Homo sapiens: one gene and its partner. The protein of the gene in region 1 interacts with the protein of each later gene in a pairwise test. Each region holds a gene or a part of one and is shown on either strand. Other genes may lie near its edges.

Region 1 (4,005 bases):
CGGTCCCTGTCCAGGGAGGGGAGGGGAGGGGCGGCGGGACCCCTGCGTAGGAGGCTCTCGCTGCTCACTGGCATTAAATTAGGGCCAAGCCTCACCTTGGGTCTCAGCCTGGCGCCCTCCCTCCCCTGGGGTGCCTCCTGCAGCGTCTCATTCCCCTGGGAACTAAAATGCATGGAGCCCAAATGCTGCCGGGGCCGAAAGGGGTCTGCGTGGAGACTTCCTGTCCGGGACTGGGGTGGGGAAGGTGGGGAGGCAGCTGGCAGGTGGGCAGCGCACCTTGGTGTGGTAACCGGGAAACAGGCTCTCGGTCATGGGGCCCACATACGTCCGCAGCAGCTGCAGCCACTGGTCCTCGTACCCCACCTGCTTCATGTGGATGTCCACGGTGGGCACATTCTCGTAGCCTCCAGCCAGCCTTGAATCCTGGGGGCGGCGGGCACTGAGCCACCCGCCCCTCCAGCCATGGCGCTCCCCACCCCAGGGCAGTCCAGCCTCCTTCCTCCCGTCCTCCAGCCTTCACACCTGTGTTCCTCTGTGCAGAACAGTCTTCTTTGCTACTTCTCGGCCTGACTCACTGCTCCCGGCCCTTCAAGTCTCAGCTAAGATGTCACCTGTCCTGTGAAGCTCCCTACTCCTCCCAAGTCTGGGTCAAGGCTTCCCCGTGGCTTCTATTGCACCCAGGCTGCTCATCGCAGCCTTAGAAGCTGTGTGGTGGCTGCTGCTCACAGCAGGGCAGAGCTCGACCGGCATGAGGCATTCCTGCAGTGCAGTCTAGGACAGTGGCCCAGGAATGATTTCCTTTTCTCTTTTTTTAGAGACAGAGTCTTGCTCTGTCACCCAGGCTGGAGTACTGCGGCATGATCATAGCTCACTGCAGCCTCTAACTCTGGGGCTCAAGTGATCCTTCTGCCTCAGCCTCCTGAATAGCTGGGACATGCCACCATGCCCGGCTAATTTGTTGGTTTTTCTGAGATGGAGTTTCACTCTTGTTGCCCAGCCTGGAGTTCAATCTTGGCTCACTGCAACCTCTGCCTCCCGGGTTCAAGCAATTCTACCTCAGCTCCCGAGTAGCTGGGACTACAGGCGCCCGCCACCATGCCCGGCTAATTTTGTGTTTTTAGTAGAGATGGGGTTTCTCCATGTTGGTCAGGCTGGTCTCGAACTCCTGACCCCAGGTGATCCACCTGCCTCGGCCTCCCAAAGTGCTGGGATTACAGGCGTGAGCCACCGCACCTGGCCCAAACTCGGCTAATTTTTAAATTTTTTGTAGAGACAGGGTCTCGCTATGTTGCCCAGGCTGGCCTCAAACTCCCCCTGCTCGAGCAATCCTCCCGCCTCAGCCTCCCAAAGTGCTAGGATTACAGGCATGAGCCACTGTGCCCAGCAGTAAATATTTCTTGAATACATGAATGAATGCAGTTGTGACCCCAGGGTCTGCCTCCCCCCTGGGAACCCCTCTTTGCTCCCATTTTCCTGATTCCATTGTTTGTTTACCAGATCCTGCACCTCCTCCTCTGGGAAGGCCTCTGCCCTCCTCGCCCAGGCCCTTACCTCATGCCGGCCGCCTGACCACTGGCCGTAGTGCTCCATCTCTGCCACCAGCTCATCACACATTTGTTCTGACAGCAGTGGGAACCAGTACACGTCCGGGCATGGCTGAGGATGGGGCGAGGGAGAACAGGGCTAGCTGACGCCGCAGAACGGGGAAGGGGACAGGCAGCAGGCAGAATGGGAAGGGGCAGGGAGGAGCAGGGAAGGCTTTGTGAGAGCAGCCGGGGACCCGCCAGGTAGGGGCTGAGGGAGTGGCAAGGCTGAGGACCGGTTTCTGGCACAGGAGAGGTGGCAGAGGGTCCTGGAGCCCCTCGTGCTGGGACAGTGGTTTCCAAACTTCCGTAACAGTGCATACCTCTTTTTTTTTTTTTTGAGATAGGGTATTGCTCTGTCAACCAGGCTGGAGTGCAGTGGCACAATCATAGCTCACTACAGCCTCGACCTTCTGGGCTCAAGCGATCCTCCCGCCTCAGACTCCCAAGTAGCTGGAACTACAGGCACATGCCACCATGCCAAGCTAATTTTTTCTTTTCTTTTTTTTTTGAGACAGGGTCTCGCTGTGTCACCCAAGGTGGAGTGCAGTGGCGTGATCTTGGCTCACTGCAACCTCTGCCTCCCAGGTTCAAGCGATTCTCCCACCTCAGCCTCCCGAGTAGCTGGGACTACAGGTGCACGCCATCACACCTGACTAATTTTTGTGTTTTTTTTTTTTTTTTTTTTGGTAGAGACAGGATTTGCCATGTTGGCCAGGCTGGTCTCGAACTCCTGACCTCAGGTGATCTGCCTGCCTCGGCCTCTCAATGTACTGGGATTACAAGCATGAGCACCACTCCTGGCCTCATTTCTTATTTAATTTTTTTGTTGTTGTTGTAGAGACAGATTCTCGCTATGTTGCCCAGGCTGGTCTTGGACTTCTGGCCTCAACCGATCCACCCACCTTGGCCTCCCAAAGTGCTGGGATTACAGGCATGAGCCACTGAGCCCAGCCCCATTCTTCTTTTAAGATGTGATTTCAAGCATAACACCAGTATACCCAATATACAGGAGAAGAGGCTGTCTGATCAATGCTGGCTTTGGGGGCAAGAGTCCTTTCTGTTCGGCCTCTGCCTTCATCTTGTCTGAACAGAAAACCCTCAGATCTCTGGGGAACTCAGTGTGAAAACTTTGAATCCAGGCGGGGGCCCCCAAGAGGCGATGGCCATGAGGGCAGGGGGTGGGTGGGGAGGCTGCGTGGGCTCACCTGCTCCACGATTCCTTCCCCTTCCAGGGCCCGGCTGTAGTTCTCGTGGATGTACTGCTCCTTCCAGTCCTGTGAGAGGGTGGGGGGCACATCAGATCTGTGCCCCCCTCGCTCCCAGCCCCCAGGGGACCGCCCCCTCCCACTCAGTGTCCTGCGCTGGCAGCAGCCATCACGTTTGGTGTCTTCCTTAGCACAAGGCGGGGAACCTGTGTGCTCTGGGCGTGGGGTCCCCACTCACGACGGGGTTGTCGAAGATCTGCCAGAGGTCGGGGTGCAGGTGCTCCGTGTCGTATCTGGAAGTGGCCAGGAGCCGGCCAAATTCATGCTGATTGCTCAGATGGAGGAAGATGCCCTGTAGTGGGGTGGGGGTGTCCGTGATGCAGGCGATGCCTGGAGTCTGGGGGACTGCCCCCAGGCCAGACCGTGCACCCGCGCTCACCTTGTCTCGAAAGCTCTTACAGAAGGCCATGTCCGGGTCTGTGTCACTGCCCGAGAACACATCCCTCTGGGGCAGCTCCATCCGCAGGGTATCACCCCGGATCACATAGGCCTGGGAGATGTATGGTACATTCCACACACCCCTGGAGGCACCGACACCGCGGTCAGCTGGGAGGACAGCCCCCCAAATTCTGCCCAGCTCATCCCGGGAAGTCCTTCTTCCCTCAGGGTATCCCAGTCCCTGAACATAAGGCCCCTGCATGTCCCTTGTCAAGCACTGCTGGTCCCAACCACCCCACCTCCCAAAATGCGGTCAGTTCCTACCCCAAGCTGTGGCACTTCTTTTTTGTTTCTTGTTTTTGGTTTTTGAGACGGAGTCTTGCTCTGTCACCCAGGCTGGAATGCAGTGGTGTGATCTTGGCTCACTGCAACCTCCACCTCCCAGGTTCAAGCAATTCTCCCACCTTAGCCTCCCAAATAGCTGGGATTAGAGGTGCCAGCCACCATGCCCGGCTGATTTTTGTATTTTTGGTAGAGATGGGGTTTCACCATGTTGGCCAGGCTGGTCTCGAACTCCTGACCTCGAGTAATCCACCTGCCTCTGCCTTCCAAAGTGCTGGGATTACAGGCGTCAGCCACCGCGGCCGGCCCTTGTTTTTTATTTTCTTGAGAAAGGGTCTCCCTCTGTTTCCAGGCTGGAGTGCAGTGGTGGAAACATGGCTCACTGCAGCCTCAACCTCCCAAGTTCAAGTGATTCTCCCACCTCAGCCTCCGTA
Region 2 (3,347 bases), on another chromosome or scaffold:
CCCAGCCTTATTTTTAAAAAATTCTCATTAATTCATAGCAGGCAATTATCAGGATATAATAAAAGAGGCAAAAAGACCACGTAGAGTGTGTAGTGCTTGACTGGTTGTTGCCGTTAGCGGTTGTTTGATATAGAGGAAACAAGTGGAGTGTTTTTTCTGGGATAATATGAGATACTCAGCAGAGACCTTATGGAAAATAAAGTCTTTTTAGAAGAGTAGTGGTGTAGAAATAGATGCAATTTAATCCCATTTTTAATTATCCAGCAATTTGAGAGTCACAACTTGTAACAAATTCACAAAGTGGCTAAGTAGAGTCTCTTCTCAATTGGAGTGTCTGATTTTACTGTGCATTTCTTTGGGGCATTTGAGATTTGTACATTTTTCTTTAATAGAAGTTTCTATATTCCATATATTACTTGCCCTACAATCATAATTCCATTGCCCCAGGATAAAGCACTACCTAATTGCAAGTAATCTTCTTGCTCATTTGTTGCATGTTTATTTCAAATAACTTATGCTTGGGGAAAACTTTCATGTGCTTTGTAAAATCCCCAGATTGAGTTCATAGTTGCAGGTATCTAAAGATTTGCCTTTGAAGACCTCAGGGATTGAATGAAATACCAGAAGCTATGCCCCAAAATACAACCACTTTTGTTTTCTTGTGTTTGTAATAAACAGTGTTAGAATCAGACCCAATTAACCCAGACTATTTTTTAATCTTTCTTTGGTCAGACGAATCACATTAAACATGATATTAGAAAAAAAAACTTCTTTAATGGGAAATTTTACGATTGAAATGATGTTTCATCTTATAGACCACAAACAAATGTTTTTAGACATTGAAAAGTGGTTAAAGACCAACTGCGCCCAGTCCCCCAAGTGCCATTTTCTGAGTGCAGAATGGAGGGTGACGTCTTGAGCTGATGCTGTGTCCCCAGCATCAGGTTTTCTGTTTTCCCTCTTCTCCCTTTATTCCTTCCTTGTCCATTGCCCTCAACCTTCTTTTTCTGTTTGCTCTGGCCTGGTTCAGTATAACATATCCATGAACTCTAGTATGGGCCTACGGACAATCATAGCTACAATCAGACTTTCTAAGCAAATGGGAATGTGATATACATATAACCATTAGAAACCCTATCATCACCTCCTAGAGGGGAAGTGAATTTCTTAATTTTTTTAGTTGCAAGAGTCACTTCTTAGCCAACTGACTAGAGAATGCAGAATGAACAGGGGAGGAAGGAGCTGATGGCACAGCCTTAGAACAGTAACCAGAACACACCCCCATCAAGTGTCACCTCCAGGAAGGCGCCCCACCCCCATCCTCCGTTTTCTGGGCTCATATTTAGGTAAAGCTCTAAGACTCCTGAGCCAACTTTTATGTAACTGGCTTTCCTAGGCTGGGGCTTGAACTAAGTAAAGAAGCCAAGGAGTTCAGATCTAGATAGCAGAGAAGTAAGTCTCATTCTAAAACATTGCAACTACTGTTAGAGTCCACCCCATGAAGCTGTTTCAGATTGTGTATCTTTGACTGAATTCTATAAGTATATATTGTTCAGACTAAAACAAATGTTGCTAGCTAGGTTGGCTGTGCTGTCTCAGTAGGACATTGACAGACTCCAGCTTTCACCCTCTGGAGACCTTGGACCTAAGTGCCACATGCATTATGAGACCTGGTCCAGGAGCTGTCCTGCCATGGCTAGCTCACGGCTTGACAGCAATACTTCTTCTCCTTCTCCGCCCAGCATAGACTTGGTCACCTGAAAGTTAGAAGATCAGTAGGAAGTTAAAACATATCTTGTGGCCTGTGGGGATCTTGGCTTGGGCAATTATGGCAACCGTGACTACTGCAAAGATGGCTTCAAAGGTGAAATCTTTTGTAAGACTACATTTATTTAACTTGTTTGCCCCATTTCAACACCAGCTTGGTTCTCCTTTTCCTCCCTGCTTTGACACTCTCCTTTTCTTCCTCACTGTGAATGGGATTGTTATGCAAATTCTGCTTTTGGCAGTGTCTGCCTGGAGTAATTGGCATTTGCCTGAATTTCTCAGGCTTGCTCTGGAACAAATCACCTGCTTCTCTAATGAGCGTCAGCCTTGCAGCCCTCCAGAACATGCAAAACGTGGAGCAGTCAACACTTACCTTTGTCTCCTTTTTCTCCCTTGTGTCCTCGAGGGCCAGGTGGCCCAGGATGACCTGGTGGCCCAGCAGGGCCCCTGTCACCTGGAAGGAAAAATGGGGCGTAACTAAGTAATACATGAGTCTGGGGACTGAGGGCACAGGTAGCCGGTGTGGCACCAGCACAGGAGCTGCTTTTCAGTACGAGGTGGGTGTTAACACAGGATCCAGGGACTGGCTCTCTGCCACCACTTACCTTTGGGTCCTGGAGTGCCCATCTCTCCTTTTTGCCCAGGGGGTCCTTGAATGGCTCCATAAGCTGCAAAAGCAAGGAAACACTGGCCTTAGAGTCTTGATCACCTGGAAGCTTGGGACATCAAGTCATTTGTTCAGAGTAACACAGAGAGATAGTGATGGAGTTTGGACGTGTAAGAGGAAACAAAGTTCAGAATTTATAGAATTTGTCTAATTTTGAGCATCTCAAATGTTAATAACTGGAGATTTCTCATGAGACTGGTGTCTCTGGAGCAGACCCGTGGGAACCTATGCAGTGAGGCAGGTGCTGGGAAAGCAGTTGGATGCCCTTACTTTGGAAGAAGTCCATGAGGTCCGCAGTCACGTTGCTGTAGGCAGAGAAGACCTTGCTGATGCCGGGTGGCCCCTGTGGCCCAGGCTGGCCTGGTGGGCCCTGGACAGTGTAGGCCATCCCTTGCAGTAGGCCCTGACCTGTAAAACACCAGAGCTTGGGCACAGGAAGCAGGGATCTCCCAGTACCCTCTTCAGCAGGAGCACAGTGCCCTCCGAGTGTCAAACTCCCAAAGCAGTTGAACTAGATCAAGCCGCAGCAAGGGTGAAGCCCTCCAACTTCCTTTGTATTCCACTGTGTGACTGGCACAGGTCTCTTCCTGCTGTGGGCCGGCATCAAAAGCTTGTTGACTGCGTAACTGTGCCGTTAAGCTGCGCGGGGAAAGGACTCTTAGCCAACATCCTTCTCTCGGCCCCAGCAGAAAATCCAGCATGGTCATATGACTCATCTGGGACCCAGAACGAGCTAGGTGTTGGGAAAACAAAGTACAAAGCCCCCAGCGTGCTCTGTTCCCCACAGCTCGGGTCCCAGGACTGGGGCTCCTTAAGCTGAGTAGGCTGAGAGCTAGGCTGGGGCTGCCTGTCCCCTCCAGCCCCTGCCTGCTTGATTCTGTCTTCACAGCCTGGGGGTTCCACAAACAAGAAA

Evidence for each region. The genes of interacting proteins can lie anywhere in the genome.
Region 2: the proteins of PLOD3 (region 1) and COL17A1 interact in binary tests that used the Homo sapiens proteins (3 or more experiments, as listed by UniProt).

What each region holds. Positions count from the first base shown.
Region 1 is NC_000007.14:101,207,302-101,211,306, forward strand, and holds part of PLOD3 (multifunctional procollagen lysine hydroxylase and glycosyltransferase LH3 precursor), read right to left. Parts: intron 3,373-4,005; coding exon 3,231-3,372; intron 3,144-3,230; coding exon 3,030-3,143; intron 2,861-3,029; coding exon 2,792-2,860; intron 1,657-2,791; coding exon 1,552-1,656; intron 424-1,551; coding exon 277-423; intron 1-276. UniProt on the Homo sapiens protein: Multifunctional enzyme that catalyzes a series of essential post-translational modifications on Lys residues in procollagen. Plays a redundant role in catalyzing the formation of hydroxylysine residues in -Xaa-Lys-Gly- sequences in collagens.
Region 2 is NC_000010.11:104,030,534-104,033,880, forward strand, and holds the end of COL17A1 (collagen alpha-1(XVII) chain), read right to left. Parts: intron 2,843-3,347; coding exon 2,705-2,842; intron 2,436-2,704; coding exon 2,373-2,435; intron 2,222-2,372; coding exon 2,141-2,221; intron 1,758-2,140; coding exon 1,702-1,757; 3' UTR 753-1,701; downstream 1-752. UniProt on the Homo sapiens protein: May play a role in the integrity of hemidesmosome and the attachment of basal keratinocytes to the underlying basement membrane. The 120 kDa linear IgA disease antigen is an anchoring filament component involved in dermal-epidermal cohesion.